Regions from separate parts of the Homo sapiens genome. Here all the other regions are linked to region 3. The links come from fine-mapping of genetic effects on gene expression. A gene starts in region 3. Each other region holds a variant in brackets. All regions are shown on one strand. Distances are from middle to middle.

Region 1 (4,054 bases), 510 kb after region 3:
ACATGTGCAATCTAAATAATAATTAATACTTGCCATTTGAAAAACTCTGCAACACAGGGTGATCTAATGCCCCAGTCTTCTCAGGACTGAGGGTTTCCTGGAATGCAAAACTTTCCATCTTAAAAGTGATAATAAAATATAACTGCAACATAACATATATATAATGTGTGTGCGTGTGTGTGTGTGTAAAACATAGGTAGAGATACGACAATAAAAGTATATAGGTGGAGATACATACATACATAGGTAGAGACAGGACAATAAAAGTCACCAGGTGACCAGACCGTAGGTAACCAGGTAATCAGACCATATATGAAACTGTACAAAACTCATGCCAGTTTGGAAAGCTTCATCTCACTCTGTCACTTGTCATGTGTTGGACCTTATATGTGTTGAGAAAGTACCCACCCATGTTCTCAGGTAGGGTAGTCCAGCGGGTTAACTGCACAAGGAGATGTACTTCTTGTGAGCCAACTTTGAGAAAGATGGATTGCAAATAACAAAGAATAGGACCCATTGTGCAGTGTCCAGCACCTGGACTCGTCCTCCCTGCCTGCACGCTACACCTTTTCTTCTTCTAGCCGGGATAGGGCAGAGTGGATTCTGTCCAAAAAGGAGAAAGCAGAGCCCCCAAGAGTAACAGTTCTCCATTCAGAGAAATAAATGTTTCTTAAAATTTTCTACACTGCCCCATTCAGAAGCTTTCCAAGGGGTGGGCTGATTCTCGCCCTTGTGGAAACAATCACTATGAAGGTTTAAGCGCAGGACTTAAAAAAAAAATCCCATTTCCAAATTGAATAGTTTGTCTTATAGGAGGGATTTTGTTTTCTTTTCATGCTGGACCTAAATTTGGCATCCTATGGAAGTTTTATTGCATGGCATTAACCAAGAACTCAGCCAAATCTCCCGAGTCAGGAATGGCAGCTGGGAAAAGTTGAATGAATGAGCTATTTTTTTCCTTCTTTCCTTCCCTTCACTCCATATGTTTTTCAATTTCTGGCTCATAAATTTAATTAAATAAATATTTTAAAATATGAAAGATGGAGAATGTGAGAACTTGATAAATATGAAACGAGCTTCTAAATCTATGAACACGGCATTTGTGGGGCTAGGCTCTATGTTTAGGTAAAGAGGTATTACGAAGCCTTTATAGGGAAGATGAATTAAGACTTGTCTAAAAGTGAAGAAGGATTTTGGTATCTAAACATGGGGAATGGGGAAGCCATGGGAATGTGGATAGCCCTGGGAGATAAGACTCTTATTATAAGCTCACAAGTGCATTTGTGGAAATGAAGATATTTCTGTCATCTATTTGTTGGATTAGCTTCACAGGAAGGCGGAGTGAGCAAACATGCATTGAATATTTACTTGGTGTTCCAGAGAGACATGTGTTGGCTCCAGCAGCAGCACCAGAGCACCAAAAATGAGGCTTTAGCTTATTTTGGAGATGGCTAAAACAAAGATTCAGGGCATGTCTCAAAGCGATGTTGAAGAGGGGAAATAAGGCTGGTGCTAAAGAAAAACTAACCTGATGCTAAAGAAAGAACTAACTAACTCATGTATTCTTTGACAAGATGTGCTCGGGCCAAAGAATAAAATTCTAAACAATCATTGGTTCTGTGGAGGGAGGCTTGCTTTTCATAGAGGCACAGGATAGCAATTCTGAAACTATTCTGTGTGAATTCTAGTATTGAGCAAATAAGTAAATATATTATAGAAGATGGCAGCCAGTGTTCACCTTATAAGAGAAGGTAGTTACAAACATGGTGAGGGGAAATGTTAGCAACACTTCAGTGGTGTTGGATTGGAATTGGAGCTTTCAGTGAGAACTCATGGCATATACTATCTAGATAGCTACAAAAAGAGATCGACCTATGTGGATATAAATATTGAGATGTATGTGGATGCAGGTGTGTGTGTGTGTGTGTGTGTGTGTGTGTGTACATAAATCTATTTCCTAGCTGTGTATTCTTAGAGGGCCTAAAACCAAGGAATTGCAGTGCAGCGAGACCACCTGGCTTCCCGATCTTGGTTTTTAAATACTATTCTCTACTAAAAGGAATTAGGGCTCTTTGAAAAAAAAATGACTGATTCTGTAGCTAAGGGAGAGAAAGTAAAAGATGAACCTGAAATATATTTTTTTTTTTCAGAAATTAAGAATGTTCCCAAAGAATGATGGAGACATTTCAAAAGGATACGGAAGCCAGATTGTGGGCGCTTCTACTGGCCAACTCTGGGACATCGTGGACATCAAAATAAATTTGTAATAATAAAGGATTATAGCCTATTAGTTAAATCAGAAAAATCTGATTTAACTAAATGAGTAGGAGGAAAAGAAAGCTCTTCCTTATATTAGAAAGTCAATTAATAAATGCAGAAAGGAATGAAAAAATTAGAAAAGCCACCATTTGGCAACCATGGCAGGCAGAATGGGGA[G/A]TATGCCTCCAGACAGTAATTCCTTTCAAACTGGTTTATAGGAACTCACTGAGCTTGCTGATCGACCTCTGAGAGGCAAAGTTTCTGAATTATGAAGTACTGATTATATAAACTTAGACAGAGACATGCTTCATTATTTAATAGGACTGTGTCAAAAGCCTACTATTAGGATGATGTGTTGGGTGTGGAACAGGGTCTCTTCCTGCCAGGAACACTGGTGATTTCACTCCGTGTTCAGGCTGATCTTTGAAGTTGAAGACAAGCAGAAGAATCCTTCTAAAATTTAGCCATGCCCATAGGCTGGGAGGGACACTGCTCCATTCAGAGGCAGCAAAGCACATTACTGTATCTCCTATAGAGCTTTGAGCAGTCCAGTGTACATGGAGAAACTTAGTAAATGTTGTTGAATTAGTGAATGAACAAATCAATGGACCAAGTCAGGGGTAAGTCTTACATTTGTCATCTAGGTGATTAAGAAAGGAAAAAGTATCTGTTTCAAGAGGATTACAATCTAACTGTACTCCAATAGTAAAATTTACTCTTTTGGAATCTGAAGACATTCATGAGTCTTTGCATCTTATTTCCTGAATTCTAACTTCCCTTGCCTTTATGAATGACAAAGAAGATGCATACAACCTTTGTAAATGCTTGCTGAATTTGAACATTATGTTGCTTTGTGATTGCCTCCACTTGGGATTCCAAATGACATCATGTGGATTCACTGGAGGCCTCGGGTAGCTGGGGAACTGAGGGGATAAGATGCACACATGGTACACAAGCACACGTACACCAACAACGTAAATAGACACGTAACTAGAAACAGCTGTGCAGAGCCATTTAGTAAAAGGTTGAGTAGCTGGAACCATCAGGAGTGCGTGGGAATGAGTTCAAGCTCCCCCCATGAGGCCTTCCTAAGGCTTTGCAGGAGGGCAAGAACAAGGTCTGGGAAGTGGGGAAATGGGATGGCTCAGTCTGTCCTTAGCATCTCGATCCTGGCTGACTCTCCACCACTCCTCACCCTTGCAAGATTACACACTTTGATTTATGTGACATTTAGGCAGAAAGCAGCCTAGAGCACTCTGGGGGTATTAACCCAGAAGACATACAAATCAGATTGGACCAAAGGGGAAAGAAGCCTCAGACATCCGCAGGGGAATAAGAAGGATATTGTATGCTACTTGACCTGATCTCTTTCCTACTCAGGAAAGTCAGTAGATAAATAATAAAATTGATAGTGCATGGAGAGTTGAGAGGCAAGACTTGCAGCATTGAAGTCTGAATTTCTGTCCTGAATATGATATTTGTACTCCCCCCAACTCCCTGGTCTCCAAAGGAATCTGGTCTGTCACTAAACAGCATCTTCTCAATCTCCTCCATGTCATAAAGTGGGAGAGTGGGGGTAGTGGAAAAGGCATGTCTTTATTTTGAAGATGAGAAATTTACATTCTTTTTCGTTAAAATAATCATTTCTAAGGGGTAATATATTGTAGGATCAGAGATTTCTAGGACTGGAAGGATCTTTTAGAAACCGTAGAACCTAAGCCCCTTATTATACAGAGGAGAAATCTGAAACATGGAAAAAGAGAATTTGCCTGATGTCTCAGAAAGACTAAGCAGC
Region 2 (4,054 bases), 530 kb after region 3:
TAAACATTGTTTTAATGGTGATAAATGTGTCCACTCACCTTTGAACAAGGCATGCCTCCTACTCCTAGCCTCTCATGTCTGAAGCCCAGCATGAAGCAGTCGGTCTGGGTAAAAAAGGAGGAACATACTTGAATATCTTCTTGAGACATAACACCAATCCTCCAAGTTGTTCCACAGACCACCCCGATTATTCCTTACCCCACCATCCCATTTGAAAAAAACCCATTAATCTGGTAGTCTCTTTATTTCCCCTCAAAGGCAGCTCAACTTTAGAACAAAATGCTTAGGGGGAAAAAATACTTTCATTTAAAAACAGCAATACTCTCAAGTTTAGGAATTGAAGAAACTGAGATTATTGTTCCAAGTTCTTCCCTAGTCTCTGGGTCTTCCCTTGCAGTCCCTTTGTGCATATACATTTCACACAACTGTTCATGCAGGTCTGGAAGGGGGTCTTGCTGAGGATATTCATGGCAGTGGTATTTGCAGTAGTAGCAGGAGTTAGATTCAGGCAGCAAGCAACCCATCTGCAGGAAGTGGACAAGTAAAATGTGGTAAAAATATGCTATGGACACCATGCAATGATTAGAAGCATATCAGTTATCTATTGCTGTGTAACAAATTACTCCAAGTTTAACATCTTAAAATAACAAACATTTATTATATCATGGTCTCTATGGGCGAGGAGCCAGCATGGTGTAGCTGAGTCCTTTGGCTCAGGGTCTCTTACAATGCTGCAATCAAGTGTTGGCAAGAGCTATGGGTCCTCTCAAGTCTCTACTAGACTAGAATAGGATTTGCTTCCAAGCTCACCCACGAGGCTGTTGGCAGGATTCAATTCCTCACTGCTATTGGACTGAGGGCTTCAATTCCTTGCTGGCTGTTGGCTGGAAGCCTCTCTCCAGTCTTTGCTGTTAGGCTTTCTATAAGGTGGCTCTCAAAATTTCAGCTGGCTTCCACCAGAGTGAGCAAGGGAGGGCACAAGAGAAGAAGACAAAGGCTTTTTATAACTTAGTCTCAAAAGTAACATACTGTCACTTTTTGCCACATTCTGTTCACTAAGTGCAGGTCACTAAGTATAGTCCACAATCAAGGTAAGGTGATTGTACAGGGACATGGGTACCAACAGGGCACCATTATTGGGAGCCACCTTAAGAGCTGCCTACCACAAGAAACAACAGGTCAAAGGACCATGCAGCATTAAACACAATACTTAACAGAAAAAGGCAAGAGTTAGGGTGAAGTCTGCAGCAGAATACAATATGTTTAAATTAAAATACACAGGAACAATGTTATATGCTTTACAAAGATACAAACAAATTCAGAGTATAAAACAATCACATTGTAATGTTTGCCTGCTGGGCATGGAGAGCTGGTGGGGAAATGAGAATAAATAACCACATAAATCCAGAGAAGGGCCTTGTAGATACAGAATTAAATTGTGTACTATAAACTCAAGACCAAGTTCAACTCCTTGCACATGAGGTTCAAAAGAAAGGAAAAGTAAAGTAACAAAACACATACTCTGGGTCTCTCAAACACTCAAGTTCCCATGGAAGGATCTTATCAAGATCGATGTCTGAGGGAGCTCCCCACCCAATGTCACACTGGATTAAAGTCATCTCAAAGTCTCAGAGATTCTTACCGAGTAAAAGTAGCATCCGTGTTAGTGTGGCATACCTTGGGGTCTGTAAGACAGCTCTAAGAATTCAATGTACATAAGACATATCCACTTGGTGACCAAGTGTCTCAGGACTAAAGGCTTTCCTGAATGTGGGACTTTCAATGCTAAAACTTGGATAATTTGGTCACCTTATCACCTGAGGAGTTTGTCTACAAATGCAAATTGAAGCATCCTCACAAGTGATTCTGATTCAGTTTGCCTGAGCAGGACCAGTAATCCGCAGGCGAAGCAGAGCCAGAAGTCCTTCTAATATAGATGGTCCATGGACCACCCTTCTAGAATTCTCTGTTACAGAAGGGCAGTTTTGAAAGCTACTTCTGGTAGCACCAAAGGTGACAGCCACTCTCAAGTCTGTAATCACAAATCTCATGCAGCCAACTGCTGCAGTATCACCATTACCTGTTGATAATCCCAGGGCTCTAGTTCACAGTTCATTGATTCTAGTATTTCTCTTCCACAGAAGGCAGACCTCAAGATCCAGGAGGCAAAGTTCAGGAAGGGGTCAAGACAGGAGTTTGAGAAGCAAGATTTTCCTGACTGGCTGTTAGAAGAAACCACATCCCACGGCTGGATTAGCCATCTCCAGAAAAGTCTGGCGGAAGTTACCCACCCACACGACAATCTGAAGAATGTGCTTGTAAGATTAAAGTGATCTCTAGGTCTTCAGGAAGCAGCTGCGTCAAATGTAATCTCTGTAAAATATTTTTCATATTTAGAAAATATAAAAGGTTACACAAGTACA[T/C]TAACATGATAAAATAATGATGAGATAATGGCAAGTGTCTCTCAAATCTAGCTAGAGGAGGAGGGGAGTCCTGATGCTGACATCGAGGGGAGGGGATTTTGGGAAGGTGCAGATATATTAGGTAGACATACCACCATTAAAAGGGTGTGTCAAACCATAAAAGTTTGTAAAATATTCTTAGTAACCAATCAATAGTCCTCGCTCTATTTTTATAGTCACAGAGTAATCTTTTGATCTCCCATTATTCTTTGCTCTCTAAATACAGATTGAGTAACTTCTATGTGAGAGGTACTGTGAGAAATATTTGTATTTTGGTCTTAATTTTTTGTTGGATTTTAGGTTTTATGAAGGTAGACTCTAACTAGCAGAAGACGAATGCAAATAAAGCAGTATTTTCATGGTTTCAAAGAAGTCAGCTGTAGTGATAAGAGCAGTTATGGTTTTAGAGTCCTCCAGAAGCCAACCCGGAGACAAGAATCCAAGTAGTTTTGGGAAACGATCCCAGGAAATACATAAAAGAGAGTGGAGAGTAAGTTAGGGAAGGCAAAGGAGCTGACAGAAGGTATCTGCCAAGCCAATTACCATTGCGGGCAACTGATGTTACAGCCTGCTGGGGAAGTCTGGGAGACAATAAGAGATTCTATGCTGTCCACACTCTAGAATAGGGTTCAGAGTTATTCCTAACAAGGGGTATTCATCCACTGACTCTCCATTGGTCATTGTCTGAGTGTCGCTTCTTGGGAGACTGATTACATCTCAGAAACTTCTGCTCTGCCCTGTATGAGAGCTGAGCATGCTATCTTGACTACAGAGAGTCACGAATGTTTTCTATAAACAGGTTGAGAATGTAGAGACAAATACCAAGAGGATGTGGGTGGGCTAGCAACAGCATCTGCCATAATAGCTCGCAGTTGCTGCATGCTTACAGGGTTCCACGGACTAGATTAAATGTATATTATCTCATTTAATATCTGATTAATATTCTTGATTTTCCAGATAAGGAAACAGATGTGAAGTGAAAAGAGACTTGTATATGATCTCACAGTCAGCACATGGTGTGGCTGGGATTTGAACCTTGACAGCTGGGTTTTAGAATCCAAGATTTTAGCCACTATACTCTACTGGCCCCTTGAAGAGTTTGTATCTAGGTGAGGGAATAGAAAGAGATTTCAAGATGTGGGTGTAAAAACCAGCTGTTTCATGAAATATGAACCAGATTTCAGTTTGGGATTCAGCACTGGTATAGAAGTGCAGACATGCAATGAAGTTCAAGATTATAAAGGGTCCATTTTGGCTAAAATATAAATCATAGGTAGTGGAGGATATTGGAGAGGATTCTAAATGCCCAGTTAAGAAGCTCACACACAGTGGGCTTGACCCTAAGGAACTGTTGAGGCTTTTTAAGCAATGACATGATAGAAGATGGGCTTGAATAACATTAAAGAGTGTTAATAACATAAACCATATTATTATAAAATAACATTCAACAGGAAGCCATGAATTGGTTGGATTGATCAAAAAAGAGGGAAAGATGAAAGGGCATGTGAGAACTCAAGAGTTTCAGGACACTTGTCTCAGAGACCCGGAGTTACTGTGGCATGATAGGACAGCTAAGAAGAGCTGCTTCCAGA
Region 3 (4,054 bases):
TTGTTAAATGCTATTTCATTCATTTTATAAAATGATTGTGGGAAATAGGCAGACAGCTAAGAAAATGAAAGCTCAGAAGGATTAAGTAGTTTGCTCCAAATCTCATAGCTGGAAAGTGCTATAGAAATGGACTGAAGATCTCTTGTTTTTGTTTTTTATAGAGACAGGGTCTTGCTCCATTGCCCAGGCTGGAGTGCAGTGGTGCAATCATAGCTCACTGCAGCTTTGTCCTCCTGGGCTCAAGAAATTGTCCCACCTCAGCCCCCTGAATAGCTGGGACTTACAGGTGTGTGTCACGATGCCCAGCTAATTTTTTCAATTTTTTTTTTTTTGTAGCAGAGATGAGGTCTTGCTAGGTTGCCCAGGCTGGTCTTGAACTCCCAAGCTCAAGTGATCCTCCTGCCTCAGCCTCCCAAAGTGTTGAGATTACAGGCGTGAGCCACTGTACCTGGCTTGAAGATCTCTTTAGCTCTGTATCAGTTAGAATATTAGTGCAGCTTCTATAACAAAGACTTTGAATTACCAAACACTTAAATGTGGCCATTTGTTTTTGTCTTACTTGTATTATAGCTCTCCCCTATGAAATTAGTCAGGACCCCAGGGCCCTTCAATTTGATCGCCCTGCCATCCTCAATATGTGGTCCATTATGGTTGCTCCAGCTCCTGCCATTACAACTGCATTCTAGTCAGTGAAAAGCAGGAAAAGAGGAAGGAGAGGGCGTGCCCTTCTCTTTAAGGATGTGGTACATTTACAGTATATACATTGTTTCTGCTCAGATCACAATAGCCAGAACTGTCACATGGCCTCAACTAGCTGCTGGGAAATGCCATTTTTATACCTTGCAGCCATGAGTACAGCCATACTTCTGGGGAGTTATTAGTAAAGGAGGAGAGGAGAGTGGGTATTGGGAACAACTGGAAATTTCTGATTCATACTCCAACATGTGCTGGAGGGAAAGATTTAAGAGTTATATTAGATACCATATGGGGAGGGGGTAGCTGAACAGCTTGAGTCCCCCTCTTTCATGGGAAGGGGGGGATGTGTAGGGATGGGTACCAGGGGCCATGTCAGTGTATTGAGATATCTTGACCACTTCCTCCAGTCATACTGCAGACTGGTCCAGGGATGAGTTCGTGACTCAAGTTGGGTCAGTTCAAATGCCCCCCTTGGACTGGAGAAAGAGAATGAGAAAGGGTCTGGGGTTGGGGTGGGTGGCTGCATGGAGTTCTCAACATTATCTCCAGGGAGGTGACTGCCTCTCTGCATGGCCTCTGTCCTCGTGCTTACTCCTCTGCAAGGTCAATCTGTCCATTCCCCTGTATCTCGGGCACAGAGGACAAGGCCTGAGGCTGCAGGGCAGAGCTTTCTATGCTCCATGTGTGGAGTCTAGAGACTGCAGAAAGAGCAGCTTAACTCACAGGGCCACCCAGACTAGACGGTGGACATCTCTGAGGACAACAGACTGGATGACCAGGTGGGCCTGTCTCCAGGCCTTGGTGCTATCTAAGCTCCAAGTGTTAGATACAACCTAAAGTTTCTTGCTAGTGCTGCAGAGAGGGTTGTGTGATGTAGAAAATAGAGACATAGGAATATTGCTGTGCCTTTGCAGGCTGTGAGTCATCCTGACACAGAGGTACTGTAGACAGAGGAGAGTCGTGGGTGGAAGCAGGGGAACATTGCTGTGTAAGGAGAAGGGAAGGAGAGGAGGAGAAGGTCCTGTGAAGAAGACAGAGGTCTCAGAGAGGAAGGAGGAGGACCTAGAAGGGGTGGTGTTTTGATGGGGAAAGGAGCTTTTCTTCTTTTCTAGAAGGAAAGAATGGCTGGTCAACAGTCCAGCCACCACCTTAGGATCAAAGTTAGTGAGCCCCAGAAGAAGGACACTGAATTTGGCCACAAAGAAATCATCCTTGTCCTTTTCTTTGGGAAAAGAGCGACAGCATCAGTAGGGGGCAGGAGGCTGAGGAAGTGGCTTAGCACAGCGTCAGGCTCATGAAAGTCTCACGAGATTTGTAGAGTTGGTGAACTGATGAGTGAATAGGAAGTAGAGACACAGCAAGTATAGACAGCTCGGAAGACCTTGACCCCCACCCACCCCAATCGACGTGTTTTCCTGGGCTTTACTCTTTGCTTCCGTTAGTCACTTTGGCCAAGGTTTCTCCTGCGTAGACGTCAGGATGGCGAGGACAGAGGCCAGGAAGGAAGGAGATGTGTCCCAGAAAGCTGAAGCCCCCTCCTGGGGCAGCCTTTTGGAAGGAGCTTCTGATACCTAACCTGGATCATTCCTGCTGCAGTATCAGCAGGTGTCAGCCGGGGAAGGAGAAGCCTTCTGTGAATGACAGTCCTTCAGATGACTAAAAACAGCTGAACTCTATCCCAAGCAGATATAAGAGAGGTGGAGATCAGGTGAGAGCCGCAGCTGGGTGGAATTCAGGGCAGCGTCAGCGTTCTGTGTGTGCCTGGTGCTGGGTTACAGCCGTCTCACTGCGCTTCCTCTTCTCCGATTCCTGCTCCAGGATCTCACCCTCCCCAGCCTCTAATAACCCCAAATCCTGGATTGGTGTTTGGGAGACCGTGGCTGGCCAGGTAAACAGGGCAGGCCGGGAGCAACAGCAGACACTGGAGGGAGGGAGTCGGGCCCTCCTCTGGATGAGTATTTGGGACCGGCAGGAAGGGCAGGTGGGGGAGGCTGAGTTCGAGGTTTCCCCCTTGGGGTCTCCTCTCTCCTGTTTCCAGTCTCCCCCGTCTCCCTTTTCAGCGCCTCCTCCCTTCCAGCCCATCCTGTCTGCATTTGCCCTCTGCCTTCCCTCCTCTCTGTCCCTCCGTTTCCCATCTCATCTGCCTTCTGTCTCCCAGGCAGCCTCCCCCAAGGCCCCACCCCGCTGAGGCACCTGTAGGCAGGGTTTCGGCAGGAGCTGCTGCCAGTGGTCCTCAGGGGAGGATGGACCTCCCTTTTCAAGAACTTCTGAAAACAGGAGGGGCCTAAACTTGGACTGGGGAGAGCTAAGGGAGGACTTTGGGATGTCCATACAGGCAGGGATTCTGTGACCCTTTGGTTTTCTTCTCCCCCGCCAGTTAAGGCAGAGCTGCCACGGGCTACGGCTCCCTCTAGTGGCCAACTTGGGAACCGCAGCCACTCATTGCCTTTCCTGGAAGCGGTCACAGTGGGCAGTAGGCTGAATCAACTGTCCAAGGGCCTGAGAGGCACAATTAATAGACAGCTGGAAGCCGAGAGTCTTCAGGTACTTAGAGACAGGCTGATTATTAAAAGCTTCAGTACAGCGGTGAGGACGGAGACCCACAGTCTCTGTTCCCATTATCAATCATCCCTCGTGGCGGATTGGACCTGGCCCAGATTTTCTCAATCATTTCTCAATGACCACCACTCAGGCAGTCAGCAGTGGCAGGAGCCAGAGAGCTCCAGGGCTCCAGGGTGTGGCTCAGCAGAAGGGGCACTGGACACAACGGGGCCTAGGCAAGATCCTTCCCCTCTCAAAACCCCCATGTCCCGTTCTTTGGGCCTTTGGGACCTGGGTGTCTCTGGGCTGCCCTCTCACAGCCCTGCATAGCCCATGCCCTAGTGCTTGCTCGCTGAGTCTGCAAGGCCAACCTGTCCATTCCCCTGCAGCCGGCCTGCTGCTTGGCAGGGCAGGTGAGCGCCTCTCCTGTGGCAGACGGTGCAGTGTTCAGCTCCACTGGACCTTTCGGGTGATTTGACCTCTGGAAGTTCTATTCCACTCACTCTTGCTTCTCCCCTTCCAAGTGACTACATTCCTAGAGGTTCTAGCACCTGCGGAGATGGAAACAGCTGCTCCCCATCCTCCGGGATCTGGGTCAGAGAACCTGAAATGCAGGCATCTTTATTTCCCAGACTCAGTTATTAGACTTCCCTCTTTTTCAGAGTCAATGACCCCCACAAAAAGAGTGAGCATGAACATCAACCTTTCTCCAAGGACACCCAGGCTCTGATTTCACTGAACTACCCCAAGTCTCTATGAACGTGGAACTGAATCTGACTGATTGAAAGTAAAATTAAAAAGTAAATAGTCCTCTTTT
Region 4 (4,054 bases), 16 kb before region 3:
TGTTTATCTGATGTCTGTGCTGCAGGCTCTTTTTCAGACGCCACTACCCTCTCAACACTGTCACCTTCTGTGACCTGGATCCACAGGAAAGAAAGTAAGTCTCTTGTACACAGCTTCTCTCCCACACAGCTTTCTAACACTGACGTCTGTGTGGGTGCATGCATGTGCATGTGTGTGTGTGTGTGTGTGCATGTGCATACATTCTCCATTCAGCTGGAAGGTCTGCCCATGTGTGAGTAATCGTGTTGGGCATCTTTTGAGTCTTTCCCACTATAGATATGGAGACCCTCCCAGGGACTCAGTGCCCACTGCTACCCCCTCTGCCATGCCCTGACCTTGAATCTGCTTCTCCTCTCCATGATGGGGAGAGCCCCTCAGGAGGCAGGCTGCAGTGTTCTCTCGACCTTGAATGCATCTGTGTGATCTTGGGCAGCTCCTGTCCCTGGGGAATGGGGGAATGGGGGAATGAGGGGGGAATGGGGGGCAGCTCCTCTCCCCAGACCTTCCTGCAGAGGGTCTGGGCATGGGTGGGGCTGGGCTCTAGGGAGAAAGTACGATGATTTACCCTGAGCCCACTTTCTCTCCACAGGTGGATGAAAACAGAGGGTGGTGCCCCTGCTAAGTAAGTGTGACTTCTTACCCCTGCCCAGCAGGCTGGCCTTTGTACTTCACAGTGAGGGAAGCACGGGGCACATTTAGAAACCAGGGCTGGGGGTAGGGAAAGAGCAGCAAAAACCTTTGTGCCAAGGTCACTCAGCTTCCGAGTGAAGCTTGACCAGGCTTCCAGGCCTTTTGCCTTGTCCTGCCTCGAGGCCAGAGGCCCAGCGTCTGGTCCAGCTGCCTTCACTCTCCCAGGGTTAGAAGCAGCAGGGATGGCAGGAAGTGGACAGAAAACAGTCTTATTAGAAGCAATGGAAATGGGTCAGAGATTGCTTACATGATCTTTTCTGCCCCAATTCTAGCTGCCTTTATTTCTGCTCTTGCTTTTTTGGTGGGCTTTCCTGTGAGTCTTGTGGCCGAGCAAATCAGCCTTATCAGAATGTGGGAGCCCAGAAAGTCTGAATTCTGGGGATGGCCCTGGGACCTTCGGGTGGATTCCTCCATCCAGCAGACATGTCCTAGGGGCCTCCAAGGGACTCAGATCCTGCCTGGGTCTCTGACCCTGCCCTCAGGAGGCCCATTGGCACAGCAGATAAGACAGATGTCTAAATAGCACTAAGATGCTTCTGTGATTTTCAAACTGTATTCCAAGGATCCTAGCATCCTTGGATTGTACCTGATGTACAGAAGAGAGGGAAAGCTCTGCTGCTCCTTGCAGTTGTCTATCAGCAGTAACTAGGGTTTTTTCACAATCACAAAACCAAACAAAATATAGGCATAACCTGGGGTCTGAAGCTGACATGAGACTATCACCATGATCTGTCATCTACTTTTCACTTTGTCAGGATTATTCCAACAGCCCTATTATCCTCACTGATTGACTTTATAATAGGTAAATGTCGTGCTTTTGGATTGCTGTTTATAGCTGTAAAATACTGCTTTCACCTTTATATATGCAGACTTCATATAAGGTTGCTTTAGAAAAACAAAACGTTCAGTGTTAAAAAAATGACAGTTGCAAGGGAGGGAGAGGCAGCAAGAGAGTTCAGCTTACGTCTGGGGAGCTCATGCAGGAGAACACATCAGCACCTCAGAGAGGTGGAAAGAGCAGATATTTAAGGACGGGTCTTCAAAGACAGGTTCAATTTGGACAGGTCAAAATGAGAATGGGAGTAGGAGGGGCTATTTCAGGGGAGGGGCCTCATGGCCACCAGCCTGCAAGCTCCCCAAGGGAAGGGCCATGTCTGACACATGGGGAGGTGGTATATATTTGTTGAGTGAAGAAATGAGAGAATGGAGGCTGGAAGAGCAGAGGCAGGAGGAGGCTAGTGAGAATGCCTCAGTCCGAATGAATGGACTGACTAGTCTATCACATGGTCAGTGATGGTAGCTTAGGAGAGGCCATGTGGGATGGTGGGGTTCAGCCTTGTCCAGGCTTCATAGGGTCATCAGTGCTTTGAGTTCCTGCATTTCCCGTGTCTCTGCTGGCCAAGGCAGCAGGCTGGAACTTCCTGTTTGAAGGGGCTTGTGCTCACTCACCACAGGGCCCTGCGAGGGAAGAAGGTCAGGGACAGAAGGGAACTGGGCCCCCAAGCCTGGAAATCCCTCTTTTCCTCCTTCAGGAGCTGGTTTTGAGTTGAGCCTCCTGCTGAAGAAGCTTTGATGGGTGGGGCAGAGGCCACAGGGAGAGGCCAAGCAGGGCAGTGGGCTAACAGGGAATCATGACAGGGACGAGGTGAGGCCAGCCAGGGATCTCATGTGCAAAATTCAAGGAGATGTTAGATCTTGGGATCTTGCAAGCGCTTCCTCCTGCCCTTGCGGGCTGAGGCTTCTTGCCTGGATCTATTCCTTGTGGCAGATGACAGGACTGGGCT[A/C]TTGCGGGAGCCTGGAAGCCACAGCTGAAAGAAATATCAGGGGAGGGCAGGCTCGGTGCTCCAGTCAGGTGCAGTTGCCGGGTCTCCATCCTGGTAGACACCCGCAGCCAGGGCTGGCATGCTTCCTCCCTCTGCCAGGATCACCCCCACCCCTGCTCATGGTCTGAGCCAGCTGGGAAAGGGAGGTGCTGGGGGATGCCCTGTGGACCCCAGCTCCCCCACCACCTGGGCATTACCCCAGGCCTTTGGCCCTGTTGCTCCTGGCCCCTGAAACAAGACTGGAGGAGCAGAGCTGTAGGAAATGCTGGATTATGTGTGTGTGTGTGTGTGTGTGTGTGGTGTGTGTATATGTTGTGTTTGCGTGTTGTGTGTGGTGTGTATATGTTGTGTATGTGTGTGGTCTGTATATGTATGTATGCATGGTTTGTGTGTGTGTGGTGTATGTGTGTGTGGTGGTGTGTGGTGTGTATGTGTGGTGGTATGTGTGGTGTGTGCAGTGGTGTGTGTGTGGTGTATGCATGTGGTGATGTGTGTGATGGTGTGTATGTGTGTGGTGATATGTGTGTTGTGTGTGTGTGATGTGTGTGGGTGTGATGGTGTGTATGTGTGTGGTGTGTGTGGTGTGTGGTGGTGTGTGTTGTGTGTGTGGTGTGTGTGGTGGTGTGTGTGGTGTGTGGTGGTGTGTGTGGTGTGTGTGGTGTGTGTGGTGTGTGTGGTGGTGTGTGTGGTGTGTGTGTGGTGTGTGTGGTGTGTGTGGTGGTGTGTGTGATGGTGTGTATGTGTGTGGTGCATGTGTGTGGTGGTTTGTACACACAGGCACACAGGGACCAGCAGAATCCCCCTTTGCTAACTTCAGCTGCCGTGGTCCTGCGGTAGGGAGAGGGGTTTTCATAGGAATCTCCAGCTGTCCTCATTTCCCCATCTCGCTCTAATTAGCAACATGCTGGCTGGGAGGGGACCTGAGCTCACATTCTGTTCTCTGCCCTCATATTTTTAACTCTGTTTTGCGAAGAGAATGCTGGGTCACTCCAGTCCTGCGGGTGGGGGTGGGGAACGGGTGTGGGGTCCACCTTCCCTTTTATTTTCTGGCTTCCAAGGTTCTTGAGCCCAGGAAGAATAAGTGTGTGTGTGTGGAGGGGTGTGAGCTACTTGACCTTTGTCTCCCTGACCTTGTGGTGTCTGAGGAGGCTGAGCCGTTTGCAGGCAGACAGCACTTTCCTGATTGGCATATGTGTTGTGTGTAAGAACAGTCAGTAGGGGTAGGGCTGGGATGGGCGGGGAGAGGCCTGTCTAGGAATGTTCCCATTTTATTTTGGTCTCCTCCCCACCCCTCACTATCCAGCCTTGTCAATCCTCTGCAGCTCCCCTCGCACCCCTTCAAAGGGGATTTCTGCCCACCCTTAAACAAGGTGGGACACTGTCTCTAGGACTTGGCTTGTGGTCAGGGGAGTGCACAGAGGATTCTCTTCTGCACCTCTCTGAGTCCCTGATGCTGAGGCCTGCTGGAGGGATGGGGAAGAGAGGTTGGCCTGAGACCAGCTTGCTCACCTGGGCTGCTGTCCACCTCCTGGGGTTCCACT

Evidence for each region. PIP is the estimated chance that this variant, and not a neighbour inherited with it, causes the effect.
Region 1: its variant is the best candidate, but not a certain one, in a credible set for the expression of DIRC3 in testis (GTEx, PIP 0.52).
Region 2: its variant is the best candidate, but not a certain one, in a credible set for the expression of DIRC3 in aorta (GTEx, PIP 0.83).
Region 4: its variant is the best candidate, but not a certain one, in a credible set for the expression of DIRC3 in tibial artery (GTEx, PIP 0.53).

What each region holds. Positions count from the first base shown.
Region 1 is chr2:217,282,960-217,287,013 of GRCh38, reverse strand. The region is part of intron 1 of DIRC3-AS1 (DIRC3 antisense RNA 1); the gene reads right to left. DIRC3 (disrupted in renal carcinoma 3) reads left to right here. Exons shown (of 13, transcript NR_186301.1): 13 at 2,151-2,995. Among named protein-coding and RNA genes, the nearest start is that of DIRC3-AS1, 2.3 kb to the right of the region's middle. The variant G/A (reference allele first, on the strand shown) is at 2,437.
Region 2 is chr2:217,259,828-217,263,881 of GRCh38, reverse strand. No RefSeq gene overlaps it. Among named protein-coding and RNA genes, the nearest start is that of DIRC3-AS1, 21 kb to the left of the region's middle. RefSeq lists an enhancer at 1,769-2,968. The variant T/C (reference allele first, on the strand shown) is at 2,424.
Region 3 is chr2:217,788,434-217,792,487 of GRCh38, reverse strand. It overlaps DIRC3 (disrupted in renal carcinoma 3), which reads left to right and starts at 2,045. Exons shown (of 13, transcript NR_186301.1): 1 at 2,045-2,404.
Region 4 is chr2:217,804,643-217,808,696 of GRCh38, reverse strand. TNS1 (tensin 1) reads left to right here. Exons shown (of 33, transcript NM_001387777.1): 31 at 26-94; 32 at 590-622. Among named protein-coding and RNA genes, the nearest start is that of DIRC3, 16 kb to the right of the region's middle. The variant A/C (reference allele first, on the strand shown) is at 2,475.